2 separate regions of the Homo sapiens genome follow, and region 2 is linked to region 1. The links come from fine-mapping of genetic effects on gene expression. Tissue or cell type: blood mononuclear cells. Region 1 holds a variant in brackets; the other region holds the start of a gene. All regions are shown on one strand. Distances are from middle to middle. Region 1 overlaps ZNF341 (zinc finger protein 341). Region 2 holds the start of CHMP4B (charged multivesicular body protein 4B).

Region 1 (15,850 bases):
TTCTGGCAGGAGATTTTAATTTTCCTGGCTATTGGTAAACAATCTCTGACACAAATCTATGTCTCCCCCAAACCCAGCCCCTGAAGCATGTGAGATTCTGTCCTTTCCCATCTCACCAGCTAGTTAAGTCTCTGCCCTCCTGGTACCTCTGCTCCCACCCCACCTTCCCTTTCTTGCTGCCTGGAGGCATTTAGTATGTGGCTTCTTTCTTTTTCTTTTCTTTTTTTATTTTTTTTGAGACAGAGTCTCTCTCCGTCACCCAGGCTGAAGTGCAGTGGCATGATCTTGGCTCACCGCAACCTCTGCCCTCCTGGGTTCAAGTGATTCTTGTGCCTCAGCCTCCTGAGTAGCTGGGATTACAGGTGTGAGCCACCACACCTGGCTAATTTTTGTATTTTTAGTAAAGACGGCATTTCTCCATGTTGGCCAGGTTGGTCTCGAACTCCTGACCTTAAGTGATCCGCCCACCTCGGCCTCCCAAAGTGCTGGGATTACAGGCATGAGCCACCGCGCCTGGCTAGTGTGTGGTTTCAGAGTGCGCCTGGCTAGTGTGTAGTTTCAGAGTGCGGTCTATGGGGCTCCCCTGGGCCCTTCGCAGGTGCAGCCTGCCTGGGGTTTCCCACAGGCAGTACTCTACACAGCCTGCCTTTTGGTTTTTGCTTTGAATTGTTCACCTACCTGTGACATTCCTCACTGATAACTCATTGTAAATAGGTCAATATGCTGGCAAATGTTTTCTTTTTTCTTTTCTTTTTTTGTCTGATAATACCCTTTCTTCCTTAGCTGGCACATGTTTTCATGATGGGGAGATGGTGGTGTCTTTTCTCCCTTCAGAGTGGTTGGTGGCCTGAGACTGCTGTTGTGAGGACATGTTTATGAGCTGTTTGGCACAGTTGTGTTTTTTGACTCTGTATTAGGCCATTCTTGCACTGCTATAAAGAAATACCTGAGACTGGGTAATTTATAAGAAAAGAGGCTTATTTGACTCACGGTTCAGCAGGCTGTACAGGAAGCATAGTGTCTGAGCTAGCAGATCTGCCACTGGGGAGGCCTCAGGAGGCTTTTACTCATGGCAGGAGGAGAAGGGGAAGTAGACATGTCACATGGCCAGAGCAGGAGCCAGATAGAGAGAGAGGGAGGCGCCATACACTTTTAAACAGCTAGATCTCATGAGAACTCACTCACTATCCTGAGGACTGCACCAAGGGGATGGTCCTAAACCATTCATGAGAAATCCACCCCCATGATCCAATCACCTCCCACCAGAACTCACCTCCAGCACTGGGGATTATAGTTCAACATGAGATTTAGGTGGGGACACAGATACAAACTATGTCAGACTCTGTGACAATCTCCCTTTTTTTTTTTTTTTTTTTTGAGATGGAGTCTCACTGTGTCGCCCAGGCTGGAGTGCAGTAGCGTGATCTCAGCTCACTGCATCCTGCATCTCCCAGGTTCAAGTGATTCTCCTGCCTCAGCCTCCTGAGTAGCTGGGGTTACAGGCAGGTGCCACCACGCCTGGCTAATGTTTGTATTTTTAGTAGAGACAGGGTTTCACCGTATTGGCCAGGCTGGTCTTGAACTCCTGACCTCAGGTGATCTGCCCACCTCAGCCTCCCAAAGTGCTGGGATTACAGGCATGAGGCACTGCATCCAGCCATGTGACAATTGTAAGAATGAGTGACAGGCAGGTCTGTTTGGGACTCACACCCCATATTTTGAATGAGGAGGCCCAGCAGGTCAGAAATGGGAAGGCGCTGGGCTTGGATCCCCATCTGTCTGACTCTTTAATGTAACAAGTTCTCACTGGTGCTGGGAGCAGCTTGTGAATGGGCAAGATGTGGTATCTGGAACAGGGACCACTTGCTAGTGGAGGAGACAGACAATAACCAAGTAAGCAAATAATAAATAATTCCAGGTAAGAAGTGGTAAGAAGAAAATAAAACTGAGTGATGTAATAGGGAGTGACTGGGAGTGCATCGTGGGGGGCAACTTGAGACAGGGTGGCCAGGAGGGCCTCTTTGGGGAGGTGACATTTGAGCTGAGATATGAAGGATGAGAAGGCACTGCCTGGGGAAGACTTGGGGAAGAGTGTTCCGGGGAACAGGAACAGCCAGTGCCAAGGCCCTGAGGTGGGAATGAGCCTGGTGTGTTCAAGGTAGGTCAAGGAGGCCAGGGTGGCCAGAGCAGAGTGAGTGAGGTGGAGAAAGGAGAAGGATGAGGTCTGAGAGGTGGGAGTGGGTCAGACCACAGGGCCTTGTAGGCCAAGGTGGGAGGTGGGTTAAGCAATGGTGTGGCATGGTCTGACTTACTTTTTTTTTTTGTTTCTTTTTTGAGACAGAGTCTCACTCTGCCGCCCAGGCTGGAGTGCAGTGGTGCGATCTCGGCTCACTGCAACCTCCGCCTCCTGGGTTTAAGTGATTCTCCTGACTCAGTCTCCTGAGTAGCTGGGATTACAGGTCCACGCTACCACGCCTGGCTAATTTTTGTATTTTTAGTAGAGAGACGGGGTTTCATCATGTTGGCCAGGCTGGTCTCAAACTCCTGACCTCAGGTGATGCGCCTGCCTCGGCCTCCCGAAGTACTGGGATTACAGGTGTGAGTCACCACACCAGGCCTTTTTTTTTTTTTCTTATTTAAATAGAGACAGGTTCTCTTTCTGTTACCCAGGCTGGAGTGTAGTGGCATAATCATGGCTCACTGTAACTTCAAAACCCCTGGGCTTAAGCGATCCTCCTGCCTTAGCCTCTTGAGTAGCTGGGAAGCCACCACATCTAGCTAATTTTTAAATTTTTCATAGGGATAGGGGTCTTGCCATGTTGCCCAGGCTGATTTTGAACTCCTGGTCTCAAACAATCCTCTCACCTTGGCCTCCTAAAGTATTGGGATTGCAGGTGTGAGCCAGCCACTGTGCTCAGCCTGTTTCATTTTTAAAGGTGCCCCTGGCCACCCTGTGGAGAATGGACTACAGGAGGCAAGGCAGGGGCAGGGTGGCCAGCGAGGAGGCTACTGCACAAGTCCGAACAAGAGATGATGGCGCTCAGATGAGGACAGGCAGTGGCAATTGAGAAGAGTGGATGGATTTGGAATGAATTAACTGTAGGATGTTGCCTCCTAATGTTGGCCCTGGGGTGGCCGGGGCGCTGCTTCCTATGCCTGCTGTGTTTCCTCCCTCATCTCTCCTGCTCCTTCCACTTAGGTGTGTCAAATGTGTCAACAAATACTCCACCCCTGAGGCCCTGGAGCACCACCTGCAGACCGCCACTCACAACTTCCCCTGCCCACACTGCCAGAAGGTGGGTGCCACTGTCCTCTTTTCTGGGGCCTAGGCTATAATAAGGGCAAGGAGGTGGGGTGGGGTGCACACCTCACCCTTTCCTTCTCCTCTCTCACCATAGGACACGCAGGCAGGGCTCAGGGGCTGCTCCACAGATGACACAGTGTCTCTGCCTGGCCATCTCATCCATCACATTCCAGATGTGGCCATGTCGGGGCTGCTGCTGGAGCCAGGCTGGGTGGGCTGTCCTGGTCCCAGGCCTAGTGTCTGAGCAGAAGCCTCCCAGCTTCCTGATGTAAGATTATCCTTATTACAATTGGCTCTTCTTTTTAATTTTTTTTTTTTTTTGAGACAGGGTCTTACTCTGTCACCAGGCTAGTGTGCAGTGGTTTGATCATGGCTCACCGCAGCCTCAACCTCCTGGGCTCAGCCCCCTGAGTAGCTGGGACTATAGGCATGTGCCACCATGCCCAGCTAATTTTTGTATTTTTTATAGAGATGGAGTTTCACCGTGTTGCCCAGGCTGGTCTCAAACTCCTGGGCTTAAGGGACCTGTCCACCTTGACCTCCCAAAGTGCTGGGATTACACGCATGAGCCACTGCACCCAGCCTAAATTTTTTGTAGAGATAGGGCTCACTATGTTACCCAGGCTGGTCTCAAACTCTTGGCCTCAAGTGATCCTCCCACCTCAGACTCCCAGAGTGTTGGGATTACAGGTATGAGCCATCATGCCCAGCCTGGATTCTTCTTTTCAGTGACTCTGAAAGCCTCACTAAAGCCTGTTCCTGATAACATCAAACATCCAGGAAGTGTTCCAATTTCTAGTTGTCTCAAAGCTTCATCATTTTGTAAAGTTCATTTGAATCAGGTCCATAGATTGCAATTGATTGACATAACAAAAGCCTCTATTAATCTACAGGTCCCCACCACCACCCCTGACCACTGCTCCCTTTTTTCTTTCCTCTGAATTTATTTGTTGAAGAAACTGGGCCATTTGGTTCAGCGGTGTTCCCCGCAGTCTGGATTTTGCTGATTACGTCTCCCTGGTGTGTTTAACTTGCTTCTTCACTCTACTCATTTTCTTACAACCATATGTGGCAGATTTTCCAGGACAGCCCTGGTTTCATTTTGGCCTCATTCTGGATGTTTCTTATTATCTAACCTAATTTTAAGCTTTAGAAGTTGTGGTCCGAGTAAAAGATACCATGAATTGAGCAAGAACCACATGCCAGATGCTGTTCTGAGCATTTCACTGGAATTGACTAGAGGATAGGTGTACTGTTACTATCCCCCTTTATAGGTGGGGAAACCAAGGCAGAAAGGTCACCTAGCTGGGAAACGATGGGGCTAATAAGCAGTGGGGCAGCTGGGTCTGTGCCCGTGACCAACGCTCTACCAAAATGAATGAATGTGTGAATACATGCCCTTCTTTTGCCTGGACTGGAAAGAGATTTTCACTTCTGTGTTTTCTGGCTTTAAAAAAATTACCTTTCATACAAAAATTAGCTGGGTGTGGTGGTGGGCGCCTGTAATCCCAGCACTTCGGGAGGCTGAGGCGGGTGGATCACCTGAGGTCAGGAGTTAGAGACCAGCCTAACCAACATGGAGAAACCCTGTCTCTACTAAAAATAAAAATTAGCCGGGAGTGGTGGCAGGCACCTGTAATCCCAGCTACTCAGGAGGCTGAGGCAGGAGAATCGCTTGAACCTGGGAGGCAGAGGTTGCAGTGAGCCAAGATTGCACCATTGCACTCCAGCCTGGACAATATGAGCGAAACTGCATCTCAAATAAAATAAAATAAAATAAATAAAAGTAAAAAATTACCTTTCCATAGATTTCTTTAGTAATTTGCTCATTTTCCATTAATTCTTTTACTTGTCAGTCATTTGACCCAGGCTCTGTGCTGGGGAGTGAAAGCCCCTCTCTGCCTACTTGGAGCTCCTGTGTAAGCAAAGGGCTGTCATTCAGTGGGTTAAATGCTGACTTAAAAGTGTGGGTGGACATTCAAAGGCAGAATTGGCTTTGCCAGGCATAGCACCAGGGAGCTAGGGAAGGCTTGACAGGAGCAGTGACGCCCGAGTTGGGTCTTGAAGGATGTGTAAGAGTTTGTCAGTAAAGAGAGAAAGGCCCTCTGGGTGGGAAGAACATCCGGGCAAAAGCTCAGGGCAGACATGTTTTGTCCGGGCTTGTGGGGAGCCATGAAGTTCTAAGGGCTGAGTCTGACATTCTGGGTCCTGGCCCCTGATAGCCAGAAAGGAAGGTGTCTCTATAGGGGCTGGAAACGAGGAACCTTTGAGTTCAGAAGATGGCCAGGGGAGGGGGGCCCGGTGAGTCAGACCTGAAGGCCCCTCTTCTCTCCCAGGTGTTTCCTTGTGAACGCTACCTGCGGCGTCATCTGCCCACCCACGGCAGCGGGGGCAGGTTCAAGTGCCAAGTGTGCAAGAAGTTCTTCCGGCGGGAGCATTATCTCAAACTGCATGCTCACATCCACTCGGGTAGGTACCCTGCCCCTGAGAACTCCAGCCCAGCCCCTCCCCTCCCCCTCCCCCTCTCCTCATGCCTTTCTCTCTCTTCCCATCCCCATCTGGCTCTTCTCCCTGTCTCCCTCAGCCCCTTTTCCCTCCACTTCTCCATCTCCCTCCCCATCTCACTCAGTCCCTCCCCTCATCTCTCTCAGCCCCCGTCTCCCTCCTCCTCCCCATCTCCCTCCTCCTCCCCATCTCCTTCCTCCTCCCCATCTCCCTCCAGCACCCTTCTCCCTCCTCTTCCCCATTTCCTTTCCCCTCTCCCTCTCCCTACTCCTCTCCCTCCCCCCTCCCTCCGCCTCCTCACCTCCCTCCCTCTCCCCATCTCCTTCCCCCTCCCCCATCTCCCTCCCTCTCTCCATCTCTCTCCCCCCCATCTCCCTCACCCTCCCCATCTCCCTCTTCTTCCCCATCTCCCTGCAGCCCCCTTCTCCCTCCTCCTTCCCATCTCCCTCTAGCCTCCCTTCCCCTCCCTCTCCCCATCTCCTTCTAGCCCCCTCCAGCCTCCCTCCCCTGTCCTCTCCCCTCTCCCTCCAGCCCCCTCCCCCTCCTCTCTGTCGCTGTCTGTCTCCCTCCAGCCCTCCTGCCTCTCCCCTTGCTCCTCCTTCCTCTCTCCTTCCTGGCCCCTGATCCACCTGCCTTAATTCATGAACAAGGGATTCCCACCACCGCTAAAGCAGAGAAGAGCCCCTGGAGGTTGTGTGGAAGGGACTTTTTATTCTTTTTTTTTTTTTCTTTGAGACAAAGTCTCGCTCTTGTTGCCCAGGCTGGAGTGCGGTGGCAGATCTTGGCTCACTGCAACCTCTGCCTCCCGGGTTCAAGTGATTCTCCTGCCTCAGCCTCCTGAGTAGCTGGGATTACAGGCTCCCACCACCATGTCCAGCTAGTTTTTTGTATTTTTAGTAGAAACAGGGTTTTGCCATGTTGGCCAGGCTGGTTTCGAACTCCTGACCTCAGGTGATCCTCCTGCCTCGGCCTCCCAAAGTGCTGGGATGACAGGCGTGAGGCACTGCACCCAGCCTGTGTGAGGGACTCTTGACTCTGCCCCCTGTGGTGGGGACACTGCTCTCACTGTAAGTTCCCACTCAAACCTGAACAAAACGCCATCTCCTTGGTTCCCCAGTTGAAACACACTGACATTTTCTTTTCTATTAATCTTTAGATTTTTTTATTAGTTAAATTTTTTAATTGCTTTTTAATTGAAAAGGATCTAAAGATTGAGAAAACTTGAGGGAAAATCCTTGACGGGACAAAAGCATATATAAAAAAATAAACTCCCTCTCACTTCAGATGGACAATCCAATGTTTTTCCTTTTTTTTCTTTCCTACGACCTATGGTAAAAAATACATTTCATATTGCAACCCAGGAAGCACACATAGGATGTATTGCAACAAAAGTTTTACAAAACAGTGTTTTCTATTTTGTCCTTTTCAATTTTAGTTTTTTTATTTTTTATTTTTATTTTGAGACAGGGTCTCACTCTGTCACCCAGGCTGGAGTGCAATGGTATGATCTCACTACAACCTCCGCCTCCCAGGTTCAAGCCATTCTCGTGCCTCAGCCTCCCGAGTAGCTGGGATTACAGGCGCCCACCACATGCCTGGCTAATTTCTGTATTTTCAGTAGAGACGGGGTTTCACCATGTTGGCCAAGATGGTCTCAAACTCCTGGCCTCAGGTTACCCACCCACCTTGGCCTCTCAAAGTGCTGGGATTACAGATGCAAGCCACCACACCCAGCCTATTTTTAATTCTTAAAATAACCACCAACAGGGTGTAACTTGTGGTTTGCAGTTTGCAAAATACTCCTAATTCTCTTCCCCAA[A/G]GGTAACTGTTAGCGGTCTAGTCTGCATTCTTCTAGTTTTATTTTACACATATATAAAACGCTTGCTTACGTTTGCAAAAATGAGCACATACTATAACTTATGTGCCTTTTTTTCCTTATCATATACCTTGGCGATGTTCCCCAAGGAATGTGTGCTTACAGTTCCCCTGGAGGCTAAATTCTGTGGGTCCCCCTCCCCCGGGCCCCCCCCAGAAGTTGTTACCAACAGCACCTTCTTTTTCACATCTGAGTAGTCTTCCTCAATGAATTTTTCATCTTGTATTTAGCCAGTTCTCTATGTATGAACCTTTTTTTTTTTTTTTTTTTTTTTTGAGACTGAATGGCACGATCTTGGTTCACTGCAACCTCTGCCGCCTGAGTTCAAGCAATTCTCCTGCCTTAGCCTTCCAAGTAGCTGGGATTACAGGTGTGCACCATCACGCCCAGCTAATTTTTGTATTTTTAGTAGATATGTGGTTTCACCATGTTGGCCAGGCTGGTCTCGAACTCCTGACCTCAAGTGATCCCCCCGCCCCAGCCTCCCAAAGTGCTGGGATTACAGGCATGAGCCATCACGCCCAGCCTATGTATGAACCGTTAAATTACATTTCAGCTATTAGTTTGTACACACAATGCTGTGTGGGTCCCTTGGCAAGCTTTTGGAAGTGTATCTGTAGTGTATATTCTTAGGAGTGGAAATGCTAGGTTAAAATGCATGTGTAATACTGAGTTTCAGTTTGGGATGATGAAAAAATTCTAGAGACAGATGATGGTGATGGTTGCATGATGGTGCAAATGTACTTATGCCACTGAACTATACACTTAAAAGAAGCTTAAGATGGTCAATTTTCTGTTATGTATATTTCTCCACAATAAAGAAGGGAAAAGAAGTAATGCATTGTAAGTTTGATATTACCAAATTGCTCTTTATGGCTTTTAAAAATTATTATTCAAAAGTAATACATGCTGCCAGGCGCGGTGGCTCATGCCTGTAATCTCAGCACTTTGGAAGGTGAAGGTGGGTGGAGCACCTAGGTCAAGAGTTTGAGACCAGCCTGGCCAACGTGATGAAACCCCGTCTCTACTAAAAATACAAAAATTAGCCGGGTGTGGTGGTACGCACCTGTGATCCCAGCTACTCAGGAGGCTGAGGCAGGAGAATTGCCTGAACCCAGGAGATGGAGGTTGCAGTGAGCCAAGATCAAACCACTGCACTCCAGCCTGGGCAACAGAGCAAGACTCTGTTTCAAAAAAAAAAAAAAAAATACAAAAAACGAAACAAAACAAAACAAAAAAAACCACACAAATAATACATGGTTATTATAAAAATGGAAACAATATAGGAGTACATAAAGTAAAATGTTAAATTTCCCCTTCAAGTTGTAGTTGCCACTGACACTTTGGTCTGTCCTTTCCCTACACCTCCCCATCTTTCTTCCTGCATCTTCAGTTTATTTACAGAGACACATGGCCAGGGCTTTTTTGGGGTGTGCAGGTTGTATTTTTTCTTTCTTTTTTTTTTGTTGGAGCTTACATATCCAGTAGGGATTATATTTTTTTCTAAGAAAGACGAGATTGTGTTAAGCTGTTCTACTGCTTTCTTTCCCCACTAGCAGTATGTCCAGGAGATCTTTCCAGATCAGGAAACACAGATTGACCTTTTTAATCTTTTTAATGACCACAGAGCATTCTATTGTAGGGACCAGCATTTCCGTATCGACTGGGTTGATGGTTTTTCAGAAGTACTTTATTCATTCCAGAGGGAGAACAGAGAGGAAATAATGGCAGGAAGTCACAGCAGCCCAGAAACAGCCCCTTCCAAAGGGCAGGCTGTGACCCCACGGCAACTTTGCAGGCACCTCCCTTGATTTCCTGTGGGTTCCTCAGGTAGCCCATCAGGCAAGAGCTGCCCCAGGACGGGTTTAACAGCAGGAAGATCTGGGTAGCTCAGATGGGCTCTGGATCACGCTGCTGGGCTGGAATCTTAGCTCCCGCAACCATAGGGGTAGCCCCTGAGCCAGTCCCTTCACCTCTCTGAACTTCAGTCTTCTTTCTTATCTGTGAAACAGGGATGATGGGAGTCAGTGCCTCCTGGTTTTTTGGAAGGATTCAGTTAGATAAGGTGTGATTCCTCGTCCCCCAGGGTGGACCGCATTGCCAGAAATGACATGAGGCCACCTTGCTTCTCAGGCCGTGCCTCATCCTTGACTCCTCTCCTCCTCTCACAGTCACAGCCAGTCCAGTGGCAAGGGCTGCCGACTGTGCCTTCCCAACATGGCTGTCCTGGGCCACTTCCTGGTTATCCTCACCTCCACCCTCATTCGAGCTGGTTAAAAGCTTACATCAGAGTCCATCCCTCTGCTGTTCAGACCTTCTGGTGCTTCTCTTCTGGCTCAGAGTAAAAGCCAAAGTCCTGGCTGGGCGCGGTGGCTCATGCCTGTAATCCCAGCACTTTGGGAGGCCAAGGCAGGTGGATCACTTGAGGTCAGGAGTTCGAGACCAGCCTGGCCAACATGGTGAAACCCCCCATCTCTACTAAAAATACAAAAATTAGCTGGGCGTGGTGGCACACACCTGTAATCCCATCTACTCAGGAGGCTGAGGTAGGAGGATTGCTTGAACCCAGAAGGCAGAGGTTGCAGTGACTCACCTGAAATCTTGCCACTGCACTCCAGCCTGGGTGACAGAGCAAGGCTCTGTCTCAAAAAAAATAAATAAATAAAAGCCAAGTCCTTAGCTCTGCCTCCCAGGTCCTCCCATGCGGACCTGGCTGGCTCGCTGCCCTCACCTTCTGCCTTGTTCTCTGGCCACACCAGCCTCCCTGTTGTTCATCAGCACCGCCAAACGCACTCCTGCCTCAGGGCCTTTGTACCTGCTTTCCCTGCTGCCCAGACCATCTCCCTGATGACCTGAGGTCTCTCCTCATGCATGGCCTCATCAGAGAGGCCTCTCCTGACCATCCTGTCAAAATAGCCCTGTCTTGTCTCTGGCAAAACAAAGCCACTGAAGAATGAGAGAGGCTATTTTCTCCCCTGGCCACCTCCCTAGAGGAGCTGCTCCCCTGAGGGGCCCAGCGGGGACCCTTGTGCCCTGGATGCCGACTCCTGGTGAGTGCTGGCTCTCCCTGTCTGTGTCTGCTGCAGGTGAGAAGCCCTACAAATGCTCAGTGTGCGAGTCTGCGTTCAACCGCAAGGACAAACTGAAGAGACACATGTTGATCCACGAGCCCTTCAAGAAATACAAATGCCCTTTCTCGTGAGTAGAGACTGCCATGCAGGGGGGTGGGTAGCGGGACAGATTCTCCAGGGGTGCTGCTGGGGAGGGTGGGACAGATGTCAGGCCTGAGGGCAGGCCTCTCCTTTTTTTTTTTTTTGGAGACATAGTCTCACTCTGTCATCCAGGCTGGAGTGCAGTGGTAAGATCTTGTCTCACTGCAACCTCTGCCTTCTGGGTTCAAGCGATTCTCTTGCCTCGGCTTCCCAAGTAGCTGAGATTACAGATTTAGTAGAGATGGAGTTTCGCCATGTTGCCTAGGCTGGTCTCGAGCTCCTGACCGCAAGTGATCCATCCACCTCGGCCTCCCAAAGTGCTGAGATTACAGGCGTGAGCCACTGTGCCTGGCCAGGCCTCTCTCCTTTTATCCTGTCCTGGGCCCTGCCTGCCTCACTTCCCACCCTACCTCCTTGCCCAGCCCTTAGGGTGGACAAGGCTGTCCCTTGTGCCCAGGGCTAGTGGAGGGGCCAGCAAGAGGATCCTAAGCTTGGTGAGCTCCCCCTGACCAGTGGCTTTGGGTTTTAGGACGCACACAGGCTGCAGTAAGGAGTTCAACCGGCCGGACAAGCTGAAGGCCCACATCCTCTCCCACTCTGGTAAGTGGCTCTTGGGCCTGCTAAGAGGGTCTGGTTCAGCTCTAGTTCACTGGGATAGACCCGCCAGGAAGAGAAAGAGCAGACATATCCTGTGAGGCTTGTTTTCCCTGCCTGGCACATTCCAGCCAGCACTTTCACTTATGTGGGCTATGAGCCAGGCCTGTGTTAGGGACTTAAGGGTGAACAGAGATGAATCAGACACAGTCCCCCAGTCCAAGGAGGAAGCTGACCTGAGCAGAGATGACTCAGTTGGAGCAGTGCCCAGTGTAATAGAGGTGTGGACGAGGTGTGGAGGGAATCAGATTCCAGCCAGGTCCAAGACATGGCCAGGAAGCTTCTTTGATAGGGCAGGGCAGGGGTCTCCAAGCCACTCCTCAGTTTCTCAGCGCCTCCTCAGAGCAGCCTGGCTGGCTTTCCACATGCCAGCCGAGGTCTAAAACAAGGTTCTTCAACCCTGGCACCATTGACAATTTGGGCCAGATAATTTTTTTTTTTTTTTTTTGAGACGGAGCCTCCCTCTGTCACCCAGGTGGAGTGCAGTGGTGTGATCTTGGCTCATTGCAACCTCTGCCTCCCAGGTTCAAGCGATTCTCTTGCCTCAGCTTCCCAAGTAGTTGGGATTACAGGTGCCTGCCACCACACCCAGCTAATTTTTGTATTTTTAGTAGACATGGGGTTTTCACCATGTTGGCTAGGCTGGTGTCGAACTCCTGACCTCAAGTGATCTGCCCGCCTTGGCCTCCCAAGGTGCTGGGATTACAGGTGTGAGCCACCGGCGCCTGGCCTGTAATCCTGTAGATAATTTTGTCCTGGGGGCTGTCCTGTGCCCTGTAGGATTTTTAGCAGTATCCCTGGCTTCTATCTACTGGTGTCAGTGGCATCCCCCCACAGTTGTGACAACCAAAAATGTCTCTAGGCATTGCTGAGTCCTCTGGGGGGTAAAGTCTCCCTTGTTTGAGAAGGTTTACAGAAAGGAGTCAGTCACTAAAGAAAGTGTGAAAACTGGGAGAGTAGGTCAATGACTTGGACACACAGGGCTGGGTTGGAGTCTTAGTGCTGCCATGTTCCTGTGGGTGGCCTCAGGCGTCACGGCCCCTCCCTGAGCCTGAGATGACCTGGCAAAGCGAGCCAAGGTGCAGAGAGTGAGCAGCTGTTCCAGGCAGAGGAGAATGGCAAGTACAAAGGCGCAGAGGGAGGAGCCAGCGTGGCATCTCTGAGGAGAGCGAGTGTGGCTGGCGCAGAGAGTGGCTGGAAGAAGGCAGACGACGAGGGTGGAGAGAGCTGGGGCCAGATCACACAGGTGCTGGTGGGGAAAGAGCCTGGATTTTATTCCCAGCGCAGGGCACTGTTGCGGGGTGAAGGTCTGGATGCTTCTCACTGACTTTCCCTTGCCCTCCAGGCATGAAGCTCCACAAATGCGCCCTGTGCAGCAAGTCCTTCAGCCGCCGTGCCCACCTCGCCGAGCATCAGCGCGCCCACACGGGCAACTACAAGTTCCGCTGTGCTGGCTGCGCCAAGGGCTTTTCCCGCCACAAATACCTCAAAGATCACCGCTGTCGTCTCGGCCCCCAAAAGGACAAGGACCTGCAAACCCGGCGGCCCCCCCAGAGGAGGGCAGCCCCCCGCAGTTGCGGCAGTGGTGGGCGCAAGGTGCTGACCCCCTTGCCTGACCCGCTGGGGCTGGAGGAGCTGAAGGACACAGGGGCTGGGCTGGTGCCCGAGGCTGTCCCCGGCAAGCCGCCCTTCGCAGAGCCGGACGCGGTGCTGTCCATCGTTGTGGGTGGTGCGGTGGGCGCGGAAACTGAGCTGGTGGTACCTGGACACGCTGAGGGGCTGGGCTCCAACCTGGCTCTGGCGGAGCTGCAGGCTGGGGCCGAGGGCCCATGTGCCATGCTCGCTGTGCCCGTCTACATCCAGGCCTCCGAGTGACGGACCTGAGGTGTCTGTTTCCTGGGCAGGCCTGATGCTCCTGTTTGGGTCCAGGGCCCCTGGGGGCAGACCGGTGATCCTTACCAGTGGAAGCGAGCCATCGAGCCATTGGCAGAAATCCTGCTGAATGTCATTCAGAAACCTCAGCCCATGGTCGCCCTCCTGTGCCCCTCTCCTGCCGGAAAGCCCTGCAACATTCTAGGGTTGGGGGCAGGGCCATCCACGGTTTCTGGGCAGAGCCATGGTGGCAGGAGAGAGATGGCTGAAGCCTGAGCAGCCCAGAGTCCCGCTGGTCTAGGCTGGTGGTCGGGGCCCCTGGGAGAGGAGACAGGGCATTCCTCCCCACTCTGTCTCCAGGCTGCCTCTGGGTAGCCTCTAGTCTGCTGTTCTTCAGGAGGCCTGCCATAAACTCTTCGGAGTTTACGTGTTGCACCTTTTCACAGACGGTTCCCCACAGCATCCTCAGACAGCTCTGTGATGTAGCTTTTAGGAGGCACTCAGGTGTCACGGCTAGACTGCAGCTATGAGACAGATCTGGCTTCAAATCCAAGAGTTGCCATGCACTTGCTGTGTGACCTTGGGCAAGTCACTTCACTTCTCTGAGCCCCGTGTTCCTCATCTGTACAATGGGGCTTACGATACTACTACCTCATAGGGTTGTCCTGGGGATCCAGTATGATGAAGTGCGCCAGGGGCTTGGCATGGTGCCCGGCACGCAGAAAGTGCTCAATAAATGTTTTTGTCATAACGTGTCCGGGTGGCCTGGGCCAAGCTGTGGCAGTTTCCTTCTTTGCCCCTAGGTGGCAGCACTCCCCCTCTGAAGCTTGTGGTGGCTGAGGGGTCCCAGGCCCCTCACACAGGGAGCCCTGGAGAGATGATAAGGGAAGCAAGGCTGGGCACGGCAGCTCATGCCTGTAATCCCAGCACTTTGGGAGGCCAAGGTGGGCTGATCACCTGAGATCAGGAGTTTGAGACCAGTCTGGCCAACATGGCAAAACCTCGTCTCTAGTAAAAATACAAAAATTAACCGGGTGTGGTGGTGCACACCTGTATTCCCAGCTACTTGGGAGGCTGAGGCGGGAGAATCACTTGAACCCAGGAGACAGAGGTTGCAGTGAGCTGAGATCGTGCCACTGCACTCCAGTGTGGGAGACAGAGTGAGACCCTGTCTCAAAAAAAAAAAAAAAAAATTAGCTGGGCATGGTGGTGGGTGCCTGCAGTCCCAGATATGCTGGAGGCTAATGTGGGAGGATCACTTGAGCCCAGGAGGTTGAGGCTGCAGTGAGCTGAGATTGTGCCACTGCATTCCAGCCTGGGCAACTGAGCAAGACCCTGTCTCAAAGATTTAAAAAAAAAGAAAAGAAACGAAAAAAAAGAAAGGAAATTGGGAACACCCATCCACAGAAAACAGTCCAGGACAACACCCCATGGGGGTCGGGGTTTGTACTCACTTGTGGGAATTCAGGATAGTTAGCCACCTCCAAATCCGTTGTAAACAAGATCAGAAATCCCTCTCGTGTCGGCATCTGGAGGCCATCAATGTCACCGCGTCCAGTGCTTCCTCCTACCTCTCAGCTGGTCCCGGTGGGAGGTGGACCGGGCTCATGAGGAGGCGGGAAGGAGAAAAGGGCCTTGACTAGTGTTTTCCTGTTTATCTTCACAGCCACCCTTCTGGGCTGTTGGACTCCATTTGATGACTGAATTGTTTTGAAGGCTGGCAGGTCCCTCAGGCATCTGTGTTGGATCTCAGGGCTGGAACTCAGAGCCAGGCCCAGCTTCCCACATCCTCAGGAAGGGTGTGACGCGGCAGGAGGGACAGAGTTGATGGGGGTGAGGTGTGTAAGTGTACCGGCCTGCACAAAGGCCCGAGGGGGACTGGTGGGGACAGGAAGTCAGAGGGGATGCCCCTGGAGCTGGGCCTTGGCCCGGGGTGCTTTGATGGGTGGATGGATAGGGGAAGGTGTGCTGGGTGAGAGCAGGGCGCGTGCAAACACCTTGGGGTGGGACAGTGCCAGGCCTGCTATGTTCTGGGGCCGGCGGATGTTCCAGGGTGACCAGAGGTCTCAGAGGAGTAGGTGGATAATGATCATGGCTGTTGCTTCACCTTCTCCACACGAGGGACACTGTGCCAGGCTATTTACAGTCACGTCGCCTCAGCCTGTCATGTGAGTGCTGTTACTTTCTGTATTTTACAGCTGAGAAAACCCAGGCCCAGAGGGGTAAACTTCCTTACCCAAGCTCACACAGCCAGGAAAGCTGCAGAGCTGGGACTCAAGCCACGGCAGCCTGCCTCCATGGGTTCTTAGCCACTTTCCACGATTGAAGTGTGGGTTGATGAATCAGAGAGGGCCTTAGATGTGGGTTAAGGAATCTGGACTTTATTCTCCACATAATGAAGGGGAGTCATGGGAGACAGTGAACATT
Region 2 (14,501 bases), 21 kb after region 1:
CGTGCCATTGCACTCCAGCCTGGGCAACAAGAGTGAAACTCTGTCTCAAAAAAAAAAAAAAAAAAAAATTGAGATAAGGCCGGGCGTGGTGTTTGTAGCCTGTAATCCAAAACTTTGGGAGGCCAAGGTAGGCGGATCTCCTGAGGTCAGGAGTTCGAGACCAGCCTGGCCAAAATGGGGAAACCCTGTCTCCACTGAAAATACAAAAATTAGCCAGGTGTAGTGGTGGGCACTTGAAACTGGGTGGTAGAGGTTGCTGTGAGCCGAGATTGTGCCACTGCACTCCAGCCTGGGCAACAAAGCGAGACTCTTTGTCTCAAACAATAAAAATAAAAATTGAGATAAAATTCACATGACATAAAATTCACCATTTTGGTCGGGTGCGGTGGCTGATGCCTGTAATCCCAGGACTTTGGGATGCTGAGGCGGGCGGATCACCTGAGGTCAGGAGTTTGAGACCACCCTGGCCAACATAGGGAAACCCCATCTCTACTAAAAATGCAAAAAATTAGCCAGGTGTGGTGGCAATACCTGTAATCTCAGCTACTCAGGAGGCTGAGGCAGGATAATTGCTTGAACCTGGGAGGCAGAGGTTGCAGTGAGCCAAGATTGCACCACTCCACTCCAGCCTGGGCAACAGAGTGAGACTCCATCTACCAAAAAAAAAAAAAAAAAAACCTCACCATTTTAACTAAAGTATACAATGCAGCTCTTTTTTATTACATTCACAATATTGTGTAACCATCGCCACAATCTAGTTACATAACATTTTCGTCATCCCAAAAAGAAACCCTGTACCCATTAAGCAGTCATTCTCCTTTTTCCCCCTCTCTGGACCCTGGCAACCACTAATCTGCTTTCTATCTCTATGGATTTGACTATTTTGGACATTTCATATAGGGTCAGCCTGGGTGACAGGGTCTCACTTTGTCACCCAGGCTGGAGTAGAGTGATGAAATCACAGCTCACTGCAGCCTCGAACTCCTGGGCTCAAGTGATCCTTCCACCTTAGCCTCCTGAGTAACTGAGACTACAGGCACACACCACCATGCCCGGCTAATTTTATTTATTATTATTATTATTTTGTATAGCTGGGGTGTCACTATGTTACCTAGGCTGGTCTTGAACTCCTGGGCTCCTGCGATCCTCCTGCCTTGGCCTCCCAACGTGCTGGGATTACAGGCATGAGCCACAGGGCCTGGCCTCATTCCTTTGCATTTGGATACCCAGCTGTCTTAGCACCATTTGTTGAAAAGACTATGCTTCCCCCATTTAATGGTCTTAGCACACTTGTTGAAAATCAATTGACTATAGATGTATAGGTTTATTTTTGTACTCTTGACTCTATTCAATTGATCGATAAACTTCTTTATTGTAGCTTTGCAGTAAGTTTTGAAATCAGGACATGCGAATCTTTCAACTTTATTTTTCTTTTTGAATATTGTTTTGACTATTCAGGGTCTCTTGCGATTCCATATGAGGTGTGGGATAAACTTGTCCATTTCTGCAAAAAATGCAGCTCAGATTTTGAAAGACTTGTATTGAATCTGTTGAGCAATTTGGAGAGTGTTGCTGTCTTAACAATTAAGTCTTCTAATCCATGGACATGGAATGTGTTTCCATTTATTTATGTCTTCCTTGATTTCTTTCAACAAGGTTTGGTACTTTTCAGAGGACAAGCCTTTCCTTTCCGTGGTTAAATTTATTGCTAAATGTTTTATTATTTTTGATGCTATTGTAAATGGAAATGATTCTTAATATCATTTTCATATTGCTCGTTGCTAATGTACAGAAATACAACTGATTTTTGTGTGTTGATATTGTTGAACTTTGCTGAACTCATTTTAGTTCTAATAGCTTTCTGTGTATTCTTTAGGTTTTTCTCTATATGAGATCATGTCATCTACAAATAGAAATAGTTTTACCTCTGCTTTTCCAATCTGGATGCCTTTTATTTATTTTTCTTGCTTAATTGCCCTGGCAAGAACTTTCAGTACAATGTTGATTGGAAGTGATGAGAGTAGGCATCCTTATCTTATTCCTGATCTTAGGGGGAAAGCTTTCGGCCTTTGTCTTCACCATTAAGTGTGATGTTAGCTGTGGGTTTTGCACAGATGCCTTTTACCAGGTTGAGAAGTTCTCTCCTCTTCCTAGTTGGCTGAGTGTTTCAGGTTTTGTTTTTTTGTTTGTTTGTTTTTTGTTTAATCAGGAGAGAATGTTGGATGAACTCTTTTTTACAACTAAAAATCAGCGAAGTCCTCTGTATTTAATTTGGTATAATTATGTGAGACCAAGTTTCATAATTAAGGTTTTATTTCATAATTTTTTTGATTTTTTGGGACAGAGTTTCACTCTTGTTGCCCAGACTGGAGTGTGATGGTGTGATCTCGGCTCACCGCAACCTCCGCCTCCCAGGTTCAAGCAATTCTCCTGCCTCAGCCTCCCGAGTAGCTGGGATTACAGGCATGCACCACCACGCCTGGCTAATTTTGTATTTTTAGTAGAGATGGGGTTTCTCCATGTTGAGGCTGGTCTCAAACTCCTGTCGTCAGGTGATCCGCCCATCTCGGCCTCCCAAAGTGCTGGGATTACAGGCGTGAGCCACCGTGCCCGGCCTCATTTCATAATTAATGTTTTCAAAGAAGGTTACAAATATATGGCTGGGTATCTTTAACCATGTGACTTTAGTCAATTCCTACTTCTTTGGGCCTCAGTTTCCTCAACTGTAAAATGGAGGTGGATAGTAATGCTTACTTCATGGGGCTTAGAGGGATGATGGAGATAAGATGGGATTTTTGTGTGCAAAGGCACTTTGCAAATAAAAACTATTCTTCTGTTGCTGCTCTTATTAGAGATACTTTGTGTGTGTATTTTTGTTGTTGTTGTTCGTTTCTTTTTTGAGACAGGGTCTCCCTCTGTTGCCCAGGCTGGAGTGCATTGGCGTCATCATAGCTCACTGTAGCTTTGAACTCCTGGGCCCAAGCAATTTTTCCACCTCAGCTTCCCAAGTAGCCCAGACTACAGGCTTGCACCACCATGCCTGGCTAATTTTTAAATTTTTTTCTAGAGAAGAGATCTCACTATGTTGCCCAGGATGGTGTTGAACTGTGGCCTCAAGCAATCCTCCCACCTTGGTTTCCCAAAGTGCTGAGATTACAGGCATGAGCTGCCATGCCCAGCTAGAGATGTTATTTATTTATTTATTTATTTATTTACTTATTTACTTATTTTTGAGATGGAGTCTTGCTATGTCGCCCCGGCTGGAGTGCAGTGGCATGATCTCGGCTCACTGCAACCTCCACTTCCTGGGTTCAAGTGATTCTCCTGCCTCAGCCTCCTGAGTGGCTGGGATTACAGGTGTGCACCACCATGCTTGGCTCATTTTCGCATTTTTTAAGTAGACTTGGGGTTTCACCATGTTGGCCAGGCTGGTCTCGAACTCCTGAGCTCAAGTGATCCATCCACCTCGGCCTCTCAAAGTGCTAGGATTACAGGCATGAGCCACCATGCCCAGCCTGGAGATGTTGTTTTAAATTGTAATATAACATGTTTAATAAAGTACATAAGATACATAAAGGGCAATCGTCTTAAGTATAAAAACTGATTAATTTGTATACAGCCATGTGAACACCTCTGGATCCTGCTATTGAACCTGTTAGCACCTTGTAAGGGTCCTCTTCCTGGTCTGTACCTCCCTGGAGGTAACCATTATTCTGATTCCTAACACCATGGATTAGTTTTGCCTGTTTTTGAGCTTCGTATATATGGAGTCATACAAGCTTTTGTATCTGGTTTCTTTCACTCAGCATAATATCTGTGAGTCATCCAAATTCTTGCATGTATCAGTGGCTCATTCTTTTTCACACAGTTTTGAATAAGTTAATACGAGTTGGTCAAAGTTTGAAAAGGCTGTGCATTTGTCTGAGAGACCAGAAAAATACAGGCCAGCAAAGCCCAGGGCTCTCCAGTATTGAGCCAGTCCACTCTGTGAATCTCTATTTATGGCAGCTGAATTCTCAGCCAGGATGGCAGCTACTTTGCCCATGTGTCACCACTTCCCATCCCATACCCTGGGTAGACATCACAAATCCATCTTGAGCACTTTTTTTTCTTTTTTTGAGACAGTGTCTCACTCTGTCACTCAGGCTGGAGGGCAGTTGCATGTTCACAGCTCACTGCAGCCTCAACCTCCTGGGCTCAAGTGATCCTCCTGCCTCAGCCTCTCGAATAACTGGGACCATAGGTGTGTGCCACCATGCCCAGGTAATTTTTAATTATTTCTTGAGACTGAGTGTCCCTATGTCGCCCAGGCTGGTCTCAAACTCCTGGGTTCAAGCAATCTTCCCATCTTGGCCTCCCAAAGTGCTGAGATTACAGGTGTGAGTCGCCATGCCGGGCCAATCTTGGCACTTTTTTTTACAAGAACTTCTGATGCAGCCTCAAAATTCTTTTCAACCCAGCGGTCCAGGTGGCCAACACTAATTGCTTGTAGTTGGTACTTGATATAGTTTGGCTGTGTCCCCACTCAAATCTCATCTTGAATTATATCTCCCATAATTCCCATTGTTGTGGGAGGGACCTGGTACGAGATAATTAAATCATGGCAGCGGTTTCTCCCATACTGTTCTTGTGGTAGTGAATAAGTGTCATGAGATCTGGTGGTTTTATAAGGAGAAACCCCTTTCTCTTGGCTCTCATTCTCTCTTTGCCCGTTGCTATCCATGTAAGACGGGACTTACTCTTCCTTGACTTCTGCCATGATTGTGAGGCTTCCCCTGCCATATGGAACTATAAGTCCAATTAAACCTCTTTCTTTTTGTAGATTGCCCAGTCTTGGGTATGCCTTTATCAGAAGCATGAAAACAGACTAATACAGTACTCAAGATTAAATCTGAGGCTTCTGCTGTCATATCCCCAAGATATTTTTCTGGGCTCCCAGAGTTAGAACATGAGGGGCTCTGTTATCACCCTCAGTTTACCACACAGCTGTATGAAACTGATGGTGGTGAGGTCCACAGCATCTTCCTGTTCATATATCCTTTGGGTAATGGCTCCAACCCAGCAAGTGTTTTGCTACCTATGTACCTGGGAGCAACTTGACTTAGATAAGAGGTGATGAGGCAGACTGCTTAGATGTGGAGGGGCTGCTGCACCCATGAGGTGGCTTGACTGAAGCCTCTTTGTTTTTCTCTTTTACTTTGCTAAAACATTGCAGTGTCTCAATTACGGAACAAACACAAATGTGACTTAATGTTTAACAATACTCCTGTGAATTCTTGACAGTTCTAGCATGTCTCTCACATTTGAAAAACTTATTCCAACCACAAAATTGGGTGAAATGAACTCTACCATCCTCTGGGAATGGCTGCCTGTATGTGCAGGGTTGGAGGTTGTGGCTGATTAAAACAACAACAACATCCAACTCATGGCTTTTGTCCAAATGTAAATCATAGTCTGAGGGAGGAGATAAGACTCACATATAAACTAATAGAGGAAAAGTCCAGCTAAGCTCTCATTTATTTGAAACTCTGATCCTGAGCAACTTCACATATTTGAAAAGTACAGGAAGGAATAAAAAATACCTTTGAGAAGCTGTATTTTTCTTCATGGGAGAGCATTTCAGCTCCTCATTTAGAATTGGTTTATTCTTTGTTTTTGTTTTTGTTTTTTTTTTGAGACGGAGTCTCGCTCTGTCACCCAGGCTGTAGTGCGGTGGCGAGATCTCGGCTCACTGCAAGCTCCGCCTCCTGGGTTCAGGCCATTCTCCTGCCTCAGCCTCCCGAGTAGCTGGGACTACAGGAGCCTGCAACCACGCCCGGCTAATTTTTTTGTATTTTTAGTAGAGACGGGGTTTCACTGTGTTAGCCAGGACGGTCTCGATCTCCTGACCTCGTGATCCGCCCATCTCGGCCTCCCAAAGTGCTGGGATTACAGGCGTGAGCCACCGCGCCGGCTATTCTTTGTTTTCATGCAAGGTTAACACATGCAAAAGATTGGAAGCAGCAAATTAGAATGGTAGGCTTGGGGCAACTACTGGCTACTAACAGCAGCCTCACTGCTAATGGATGGAGAAGTGATTTTTTCCCCCTTTTTATCCACCACTAAGAGTCTAGAGAAGTGATGCTTGACACCAAAGACAATGGAAAAACAATGAAATGTGGTACCACAATTAGCTGCGTCTGTTTATTGCAGAGGCAAAAAAGTCCTCAACGCTTCTGCCACTTTTGAAAGTTCTGAGTCTGGTTCAATTCTTATTGCCTATAAAGATGACAGAATACCTAAGAATAAAATACACATTTTTGAGCATCCGCTAGGTGCCAAGTCTATGCTCAGCAAGTACTTTACATTCTATATCTCACATAAGCTTCAGGTGGTCCTGTTACGATCATCTCCAGTTTATACTTGCAGGAAGGGAGGCACAGAAAGTAGGGGAAATAACTTGCCCAAGTAAGTAGTCAAGGCTGGGTTTTGAACCTTTGCTATCAAAGTTCAGTGCCAAGGCCCTTAGCTTCTGCTAGGTTTCAAAGGATCTGTTAGGTGAATGAAGAGTAGAAAGGCATTCCAGGTAGAGGGAAGAACATTTGCAAAGACAGGTCTAGTCAGTCAGTCACTTGATTTCTCTGAATCTTGGTTTACTCCCCTATAAAATAGGAACAGTATTATCTGTCCTAGGCTGCTTATGATAATTAAATGTGTTTTTTTTTCTTTTTTTTTGGAGACCAAGTCTTGCTCTGTCACCCAGGCTGGAGTGCAGTGGCGCAATCTCAGCTCACTGCAAACTCTGCCTCTGGGGTTCAAGTGATTCTCCTGCCTCAGCCTCCCAAGTCACTGGGATTACAGGCACGTACCACCATGCCTGGCTAATTTTTGTATTTTTAGTAGAGACGGGGTTTCACCATGTTGGCCAGGCTGGTCTCGAACTCCTGACCTCATGATCCATCTGCCTTGGCCTCCCAAAGTGCTGGGATTACAGGCGTGAGCCACTGCCCCCGGCCAAATGTGATATTATATGTACAGCACTTTGCACAATGCCAGAATGTGCATCGATGGTGCAATCACAGAATGTGCATCAATGTTAATTATTGTTGTTTTTCAAATACAATAGTTCTCCTTTATCCTCAGGTGTACCTGCAAGTGGATGCCTGAAAACATAAATAGTACTGAACTTTATATATACTGTGTTTTTTCTATATATATACATCTATGATAAAGTTTAATTTATAAATTAGGCACAGTAAGAGATTAATAACAACTATTAATAAAATGGGACAATTATAACAATATACTGTATTCAGTTTTGTGAATGTGGTCTCTCTCTCAAAATGTCTTACTGTACTGTATTCACCCTTCTTCTTGAGATTATGCGTGATGTCAAAATCCCTATGTGATGAGATGAAGTAAGGTGAATGACACAGGCATTATGAGGTAGTGTTAGGCTACTACTGACCATCTGAGATGTCAGGAGGACCATCTGCTTTGGGTGATCCTGGATCATTGAGCTATGACGATGTCAGTGGTTGGATATCAGGATCAGACGATGTCAACCAATGATTGGGGGTCCTTGGATAATTGCGTTTTTGCCAAAAACTTTTGGAAGAACATTATTACTGGAAGTTGTCTCTTTCTTTCTTTTTCTGAGATAGCATCTCAGTCTGTTGCCCAGGTTTCAGTGCAGTGGTGTGATCATGGCTCACTGCAGCCTCAACCTCCTGGGCTCAGGTGATCCTCCCACCTCAGCCTCCTGAGTAGCTGGGACTGCAGGTGTGCGCCACCACACCCAGCTAGTTTTTTGCATTTTTTGTAGAGATGAGGTTTCACCATGTTGCCCAGGCTGGTCTCAAACCTGTGAGCTCGAGTGACCCGCCTACCTCAGCATCCCAAAGTGCTGAGATTACAAGCGTGAGCCGCTGCACCTGGCCATCTCTTTCTATTTAATTCTTTTTTTTTTTTTTTTTTTTGAGACAGAGTCTCTGTCGCCCAGGCTGGAGTGCAGTGGCGCAATCTCGGCTCACTGCAACCTCTGCCTCTTGGGTTCAAGCAATTCTTCTGCCTTAGCCTCCCAAGTAGCTAGGATTACAGGTGCACGCCACCATGCCTGGTGAATTTTTGTATTTTTAGTAGAGACAGGATTTCACCACGATGGCCGGGCTGGTCTCAAACTCCGGGCCTCAAGTGATCTGCCCACCTCGGCCTCCCAAAGTCCTAGGATTACAGGTGTTAGCCACTATGCCTGGCCTCTTTCTTTTTAATTCATAGAAGTGTGGCTGCAGAAGTTGTAATCCTTTGGTGACCACACGAGTGGTTTTAATGCTGTGTTCTATCTGAGGATTGAATTCCATAATTTTGTCCTTTAATGTCTGTGCAATTTGAAACACTCGGCAAATTTTGATAACACCCATATTGCTGGTTCTGTTTCTGTTTCTCCTTCATTTTCCTCTTTCTTTGTAGATGACTTGACAAGTTCTTCCAATTCCACATTTGTTAACACTTCCCAGTGGCCTTCAATATGATCTTCCACTTCTTCATCAAGCATGTCCCCAAATCCTTCTCCACCAACTTGTCTTGCTGTAGCCTCTCCAGTAATATTTATTTATTTATTTGTGACAGGGTCTCACTCTGTCACCCAGGCTCGAGTGCAGTGGTGAGATCACAGCTCACTGCAGTTTCAAACTCCCAGGCTCAGATGATCTTCATGGCTCAGTCTCCTGAGCAGCTGGGACTATAGGCCTGTGCCATCATGCCCAGCTAAATTTTGTATTTTTTGTAGGGATGGGGTTTCGCCATGTTGCCCAGGCTGGCCTCAACTCCTGGGCTCAAGCGATCCACCTGCCTTGGTCTCCCAAAATGCTGGAATTACAGGCGTGAGTCACCGCACCCAACCTCCAGTAACTTTTTTTTTTTTTTTTGACACGGAGCCTCGCTCTGTTGCCCAGGCTGGAGTGCAGTGGTGCCATCTCGGCTCACTGCCAGCTCTGCCTCCCGGGTTCACGCCATTCTCCTGCCTCAGCCTCCTGAGTAGCTGGGACTACAGGCGCGTGCCACCATGCCTGGCTAATTTTTTTGTATTTTTAGTAGAGATGGAGTTTCACCGTGTTAGCCAGGATGATCTTGATCTCCTGACCTCGTGATCCGCCCGCCTCGGCCTCCCAAAGTCCTGGGATTACAGGCATGAGCCACCGCGCCCGGCCTTTTTTTTTTTTTTTTTTTTGACACGGAGTCTCTCTCTGTCGCCCAGGCTGGAGTGCAGTGGCGCAATCTCGGCTCACTGCAAGCTCTGCCTCCTGGGTTCACGCCATTCTCCTGCCTCAGCCTCCAGAGTAGCTGGGACTACAGGCACCCGCCGCCACCATGCCAGGCTAATTTTTTGTATTTTTAGTAGAGACGGGGTTTCACCTTGTTAGCCAGGATGGTCTCGATCTCCTGACCTCGTGATCCGCCCGCCTTGGCCTCCCAAAGTGCTGGGATTACAGGCGTGAGCCACCGCGCCCGGCTCCAGTAATTTTTTTTTTCTTTTTGAGACAGAATTTTGCTCTTTTCGCCCAGGCTGGAGTGCAATAGCACGATTTCAGTTTACTGCAACCTCTGCCTCTCAGGTTCAAGTGATTCTCCTGCCTCAGCCTCCCAAGTAGCTGGGATTACAGGCGTGCGCCACCACGCCCAGCTAATTTTTTTATTTTTATTTTTTATTTTTAGTAGAGATGGGGTTTCACCACGTTGGCCAGGCTGGTCTCAAACTCCTGACCTCAGGTGATCCATCCGCCTAGGCCTGCCAGAGTGCTGAGATTACAGGTGTGAGCCACTGTGCCCAGCCCATCCAGTAATTTTTATATTTTGCAGTCTAAACCTATTCCTAAGTCAGTGCAACCATCCATTACTTTCAGTAAGTGGCTTGGTGCCACTGGTTTTAGGAGATTCCTTGCTGAAGCCTTTATACAGGCTCAATGCTTTCTGGGGGGTAACAGGTTGCTGTCAGTTGGAACACATTTTTTGTTCGTGTCTTCCACGTATAAGCTTAATGCTTTTTCTTTTCTTTTGTAAAAAAATTTATTTTCTTTTTTTCCCCTGTAAGTAAGGATACAACTTAATGCCTTTTCTATCTTAACTAAGCACTTATCACACACTGTGGCTGTAACTTTTGCAGTTTGAGGTACGACAGCAAAACCAGCATGAATTTCTTTTTCCTCTTTCACAATTCTAGGGCTAGAAGATTCGTTCTTACTGCAGACCTCAGTAAGCTCAGCATACGATTTTTTTTCTTAAGCTCAGAACTTCCACATTTACATTTAAAGGAAGCACTTTACAGCTTCATTTTGGCATATCCAAACTGCCAGCATTACTACTCTTGCACTTTGGGGCCATTATATAGTAAAATGAGGGTTACTCGAACCAAAGCACTGCAACACCGTGGCAGTCCATCTGATAACTCCTAAGCTGGTAAGTAACTAACAGATGGTAGAGGTATGTTGGACAAAGGGATGATTCACATTGCAGGTAGGATGGAACAGGATAGCACGAGATTTCATTAGGCCAATGGAAATTAAAAACTTATGAACTGTTTATTTCTGGAATTTTCTATTTAATACTGTCAGACCTTAGCTGGCCAAGTGAAACTACTCAAAGTAAAATCTCAGATAAGGGGGACACTACCGTACTTAACTGGAGAAGATACTGCTTTGCTTCTGTGACCACAGAATTGACAGGTTGAAATTGGAAACAACTGTTGCCTTCACGCTTTTAAGACAACTTCACATGAATATACATGTGAAGTTCAAGCATGGCAGTATCCCATACTAGCAATAAATTTTTGAGCAGTGTTGCACACTTACTGTCATTTCTCTTACTGTTCTGCCACTCCTACAGAGCGCAGGCCAAGGAGACTACATTTCCCAGAATGCCACACGCCCTTTGACCCCAGCTACAGCAAAAGACGCGCCGGGGAGCGCCTGAAGCCGGAAGACTATAGCTTCCCGGCATGCAGCACGCTTCCCCCTATTAGATTTGAGGCGCGGCCGGCGCGTTGCCCACTGGGAGTTGTAGTCAGTGGCGCGTTGCCCTGACGCCTGCCGGGCCGGGCGTGGGGGCCTGTGGGAGGTGGCGCGGCCGGGCCCAGCTGCGGGGCGGAGGCGGAGGCGGAGGAGAGGCCTGCGGCGGCAGGGAGCGGCGGGACTGGGAGCGGGCGCCGGAGCCGACCCGAGCCGAGCCGAGCCGAGCCGAGCCGGAGCGGGCGGCGAAGGCCGGCGCGGCGAGCAGCAACCATGTCGGTGTTCGGGAAGCTGTTCGGGGCTGGAGGGGGTAAGGCCGGCAAGGGCGGCCCGACCCCCCAGGAGGCCATCCAGCGGCTGCGGGACACGGAAGAGATGTTAAGCAAGAAACAGGAGTTCCTGGAGAAGAAAATCGAGCAGGAGCTGACGGCCGCCAAGAAGCACGGCACCAAAAACAAGCGCGGTGAGGCTGCCCGGCCCCTTCAGACTTGCCACGGGCTCCCCCCAGGCTCCCCGGGCCCGGACTTCACCTTCATCAGACTCGCCTCGGGGTCTGGTCTGACCCTGGAACTCTCCGGGTCAGACTTCTTGCCGGGTCTGGGACCCCCTCCCCGACTCCCTTCAATGTCTCCCCGATCCCTGGACTTTTCCATCGTCAGACTTATTCTGCCCTCTCCCCTCAGCCTCTCTCCACCCCGCCAGGTCCCTTCAGACCCCAATCTCACAGCACTTTCCTCCGCCCTCACTCTGTCCCTTTCTCTTCCGCCTTTTCCTTCTCGCCTCACCCACCTGCCTAGCTACTGCCCCTGCCTCCTCCTCGGCTCATTTCTGCCCCCATCCTAGCATTTCTGTGCTTCCTGGTCCTACCTGTGCCCTCTCCCGACTCCTCGGTGGAATCTGTGAGCTGCCCCTTGGCCTCTCCCCTGTCCTCTTGTCTCAGAATTCTCGTTGAAAAGCCTCCTTGCTGGAGAGAAAAGGGGACTGGGGGAGATGAGACCCCCGATTCCTGCTCTATTCACTTGCTGAGTGAACTTGAGCAAGTTGCTTTCCCTTTGAGGCCTCAGTTTCCCCATCCGTCAGCCAGAGTTCGGCCTCTGTTGAGGCCTAAGGTGTTTTCCAGCGTTGTGATTCACTTTTTGTTGCCTCGTAGCTTGACCTTACCAAAGTTTCCCGTGGCGCAAGCCTTCACCCCATGACTCACCGCTTCCCCATCCGTCTGAACCAGAAATAGAGACTCCCGACTGCTCCCCAGTCCCCACTACTAGGATTCAGGGCCCCAGTATTGAATCTTGAGGCACTGCTTACTTTACTTCCTGTTGTCGTATGGCTTTCTGGGCATTCCAAGTGCTTTGTGTTTTTCTTAAGTGAGATGAATGTGAAAATGCTTTAAAACTGTAAAGCAGTTTAGAAATGTTTGCTTTTTCTTGTTATGGCCATGTGAGAGTGAATCACAGAACGACATCCCTTCCCCTTGAGAGGGGTTTAGGATTGAGGTAATTCACTCAGAAGTCTGCTAGTGACTAGCAGTGCGACCTTGAGCTCATTTACCTTTCTGAAAGGAAAATCATGGATTTACAGTGCTCAGCACATAGTAGGGGCTAAATCGATGTTTTCTCCATTCTAATAGGAGAACAAAATAGCCTATCTGGAGGATGCTTCTCTGCTGATAGTCAACAGATATTCTGGAAATTCTTTTTAGTGCCTGCTGCATGCGCTGTATTCATAGGGGTGAACAAAACACGGCCTCAACCCTAATGGGAGAGAAGACAGAAACAGGAAAATAAATGAAGAAAATATTGTCCGGGGGTGATAAGTACTAAACACACAAAAAGATGGTCTGATAGGGAGTGGTGGAGTGGGAGGGATGCCACTTTGGATAGAATGGTCAGGGAAGGCGTCTTTGAAAAGGTAAAGTTTGAACTGAGTCTGGAGAAGGAACCAGCTCTGTAAAAAAAAAAAAAAAAGGGGGAGGAGCCTTCTGGGCGTGGAAAGCAGCATGGGAAAAGGCTCGGAGGTTAGCAGGTTGTAAGAAACCGAAGAGAGAGACCCTTGTGTCCAGAATGTAGTGCTTGGAGGGAGAGTGGTATGGAATAAAGGGGGCGGGGCTTGGACTTTGAACCTGTTGGTGAAGAGTTTGAATTTTATTCCAAGTGGATGGAAAGTTTTTGGAGAGTATTTTGTTGGAACGTGTCCTTATTGACAGAGTTTTTAAAACATCATCTGGCTGCTCTTTGGAGAGTGGGTGGGGGATGCGGGTGGGAGCAGGGAGAACAGTGAGGAGGCAGCTGCAGTGGTCCATTTGTGGCTTGGACTCCAGCTTAGTTGTGGAGATGGGAACAGGGTTATATTTTGCTGTCTCTAGCTTTTTCCTCTGATGACTCTCCCTCAGTCCAGATCCTCTGTTTATGGTCATCAGAATCAGTGTTTTTAGCTTTCTGCATTTTGGAATGCAGGAGGAGGGTGTCAGTTTACCATTTTCCTCTGATCTTTTGGTCTGGAGCTAGCTTAGTTTCTGGAGTTTGTTTTTTTGTTTGTTTGTTTGTTTGTTTGTTTTTGAAACGGAGTCTCGCTCTGTTGCCCAGGCTGGAGTGCAGTGGTGCGATCTCAGCTCACTGCAACCTCTGCCTTCTGGGTTCAAATGATTCTCCTGCGTCAGCCTCCTGAGTAGCTGGGATTACAGGTGCACGCCACCATGCCTGGCTAATTTTTGTATTTTTAGTAGAGATGGGGTTTCACCATGTTGGTCAGGCTGGTCTTGAACACCTGACCTCATGATCTGCCTGCCTCGGCCTCCCAAAGTGCTGGGATTATGGGCATGAGCCATCGCACCCAGCCGTTTCTGCAGTTTTGGCGATCGAATTGACTTTCAAGGGGCTGCAGGAGAGCTCGCCAGCCAACTGTGGAGGACCAATCTCAGTTGTCAGACTTGCTGAAGGCAGGCTGTCTCCCTGAGTTTGCTTGAGAGGATGGGAGCTACTGTAACCTACCCTTCTTTTTAGCATCCTCTAGGAGGAAGGTCTTAGTGTGGGGAGGTGAACACTACCACATTACCATTCAGTTAGTCTGCTTATTCACCTGCCACTATGCTGGGACCTTGAGAGTCAGAGATGAAAATACACTGTGTCAGCCCTTCAGGAACTCAGAATTGGAAGTGTGGGGTGGGAGTGTATGTGCGTGTGAGAGAGCAGGAAATGATTATAACAGTGCAGAAACATGAGTGTGTACATGGGCTGAGGCTGCAGAGGAGGCGGCACCTGTTTGGGGGGAAGGATAAAGAAGACTTGGCAGAGGAAGGAGAACGTGAGGTGGGTCAGCAAGGAGTTGGGTGTGTTTGGGAGGCAGTGACAGTGTCGCCTCTGGAGTCTGTGGGTGGGACAGGAGATAACACTGAGAGTGGCCTGTAGTCTTTGGACCTTGACCTGGAAGTAGTGAGGAGCCCTTAGCTGTCCTTTATTTTTATTTATTCATTCACTTTAAGCAACAGGGTCTTGCTCTGACATCCAGGCCGAAGTGCAGTGG

What was found. PIP is the estimated chance that this variant, and not a neighbour inherited with it, causes the effect.
Region 2: it holds the start of CHMP4B, and the variant in region 1 is fine-mapped to the expression of CHMP4B in blood mononuclear cells (TOPMed, PIP above 0.99). The same link has a PIP of 0.9 or more in monocytes and whole blood.

The regions. Positions count from the first base shown.
Region 1 is chr20:33,778,092-33,793,941 of GRCh38, forward strand. ZNF341 (zinc finger protein 341) reads left to right here. Exons shown (of 15, transcript NM_001282933.2): 11 at 3,200-3,296; 12 at 5,641-5,773; 13 at 10,772-10,883; 14 at 11,427-11,497; 15 at 12,897-14,178. The coding sequence ends at 13,426. It overlaps ZNF341-AS1 (ZNF341 antisense RNA 1), which reads right to left. Exons shown (of 4, transcript NR_110623.1): 4 at 9,282-9,686. Among named protein-coding and RNA genes, the nearest start is that of ZNF341-AS1, 25 kb to the right of the region's middle. RefSeq lists silencers at 507-556, 7,586-7,635 and enhancers at 647-936, 972-1,266, 14,052-14,346. The variant A/G (reference allele first, on the strand shown) is at 7,629.
Region 2 is chr20:33,800,214-33,814,714 of GRCh38, forward strand. CHMP4B (charged multivesicular body protein 4B) reads left to right here and starts at 11,135. Exons shown (of 5, transcript NM_176812.5): 1 at 11,135-11,445. The coding sequence starts at 11,256. It overlaps ZNF341-AS1 (ZNF341 antisense RNA 1), which reads right to left and starts at 10,886. Exons shown (of 4, transcript NR_110623.1): 1 at 10,827-10,886. RefSeq lists enhancers at 10,810-11,104, 10,844-10,923, 11,690-12,530, 12,359-12,428 and a silencer at 10,984-11,263.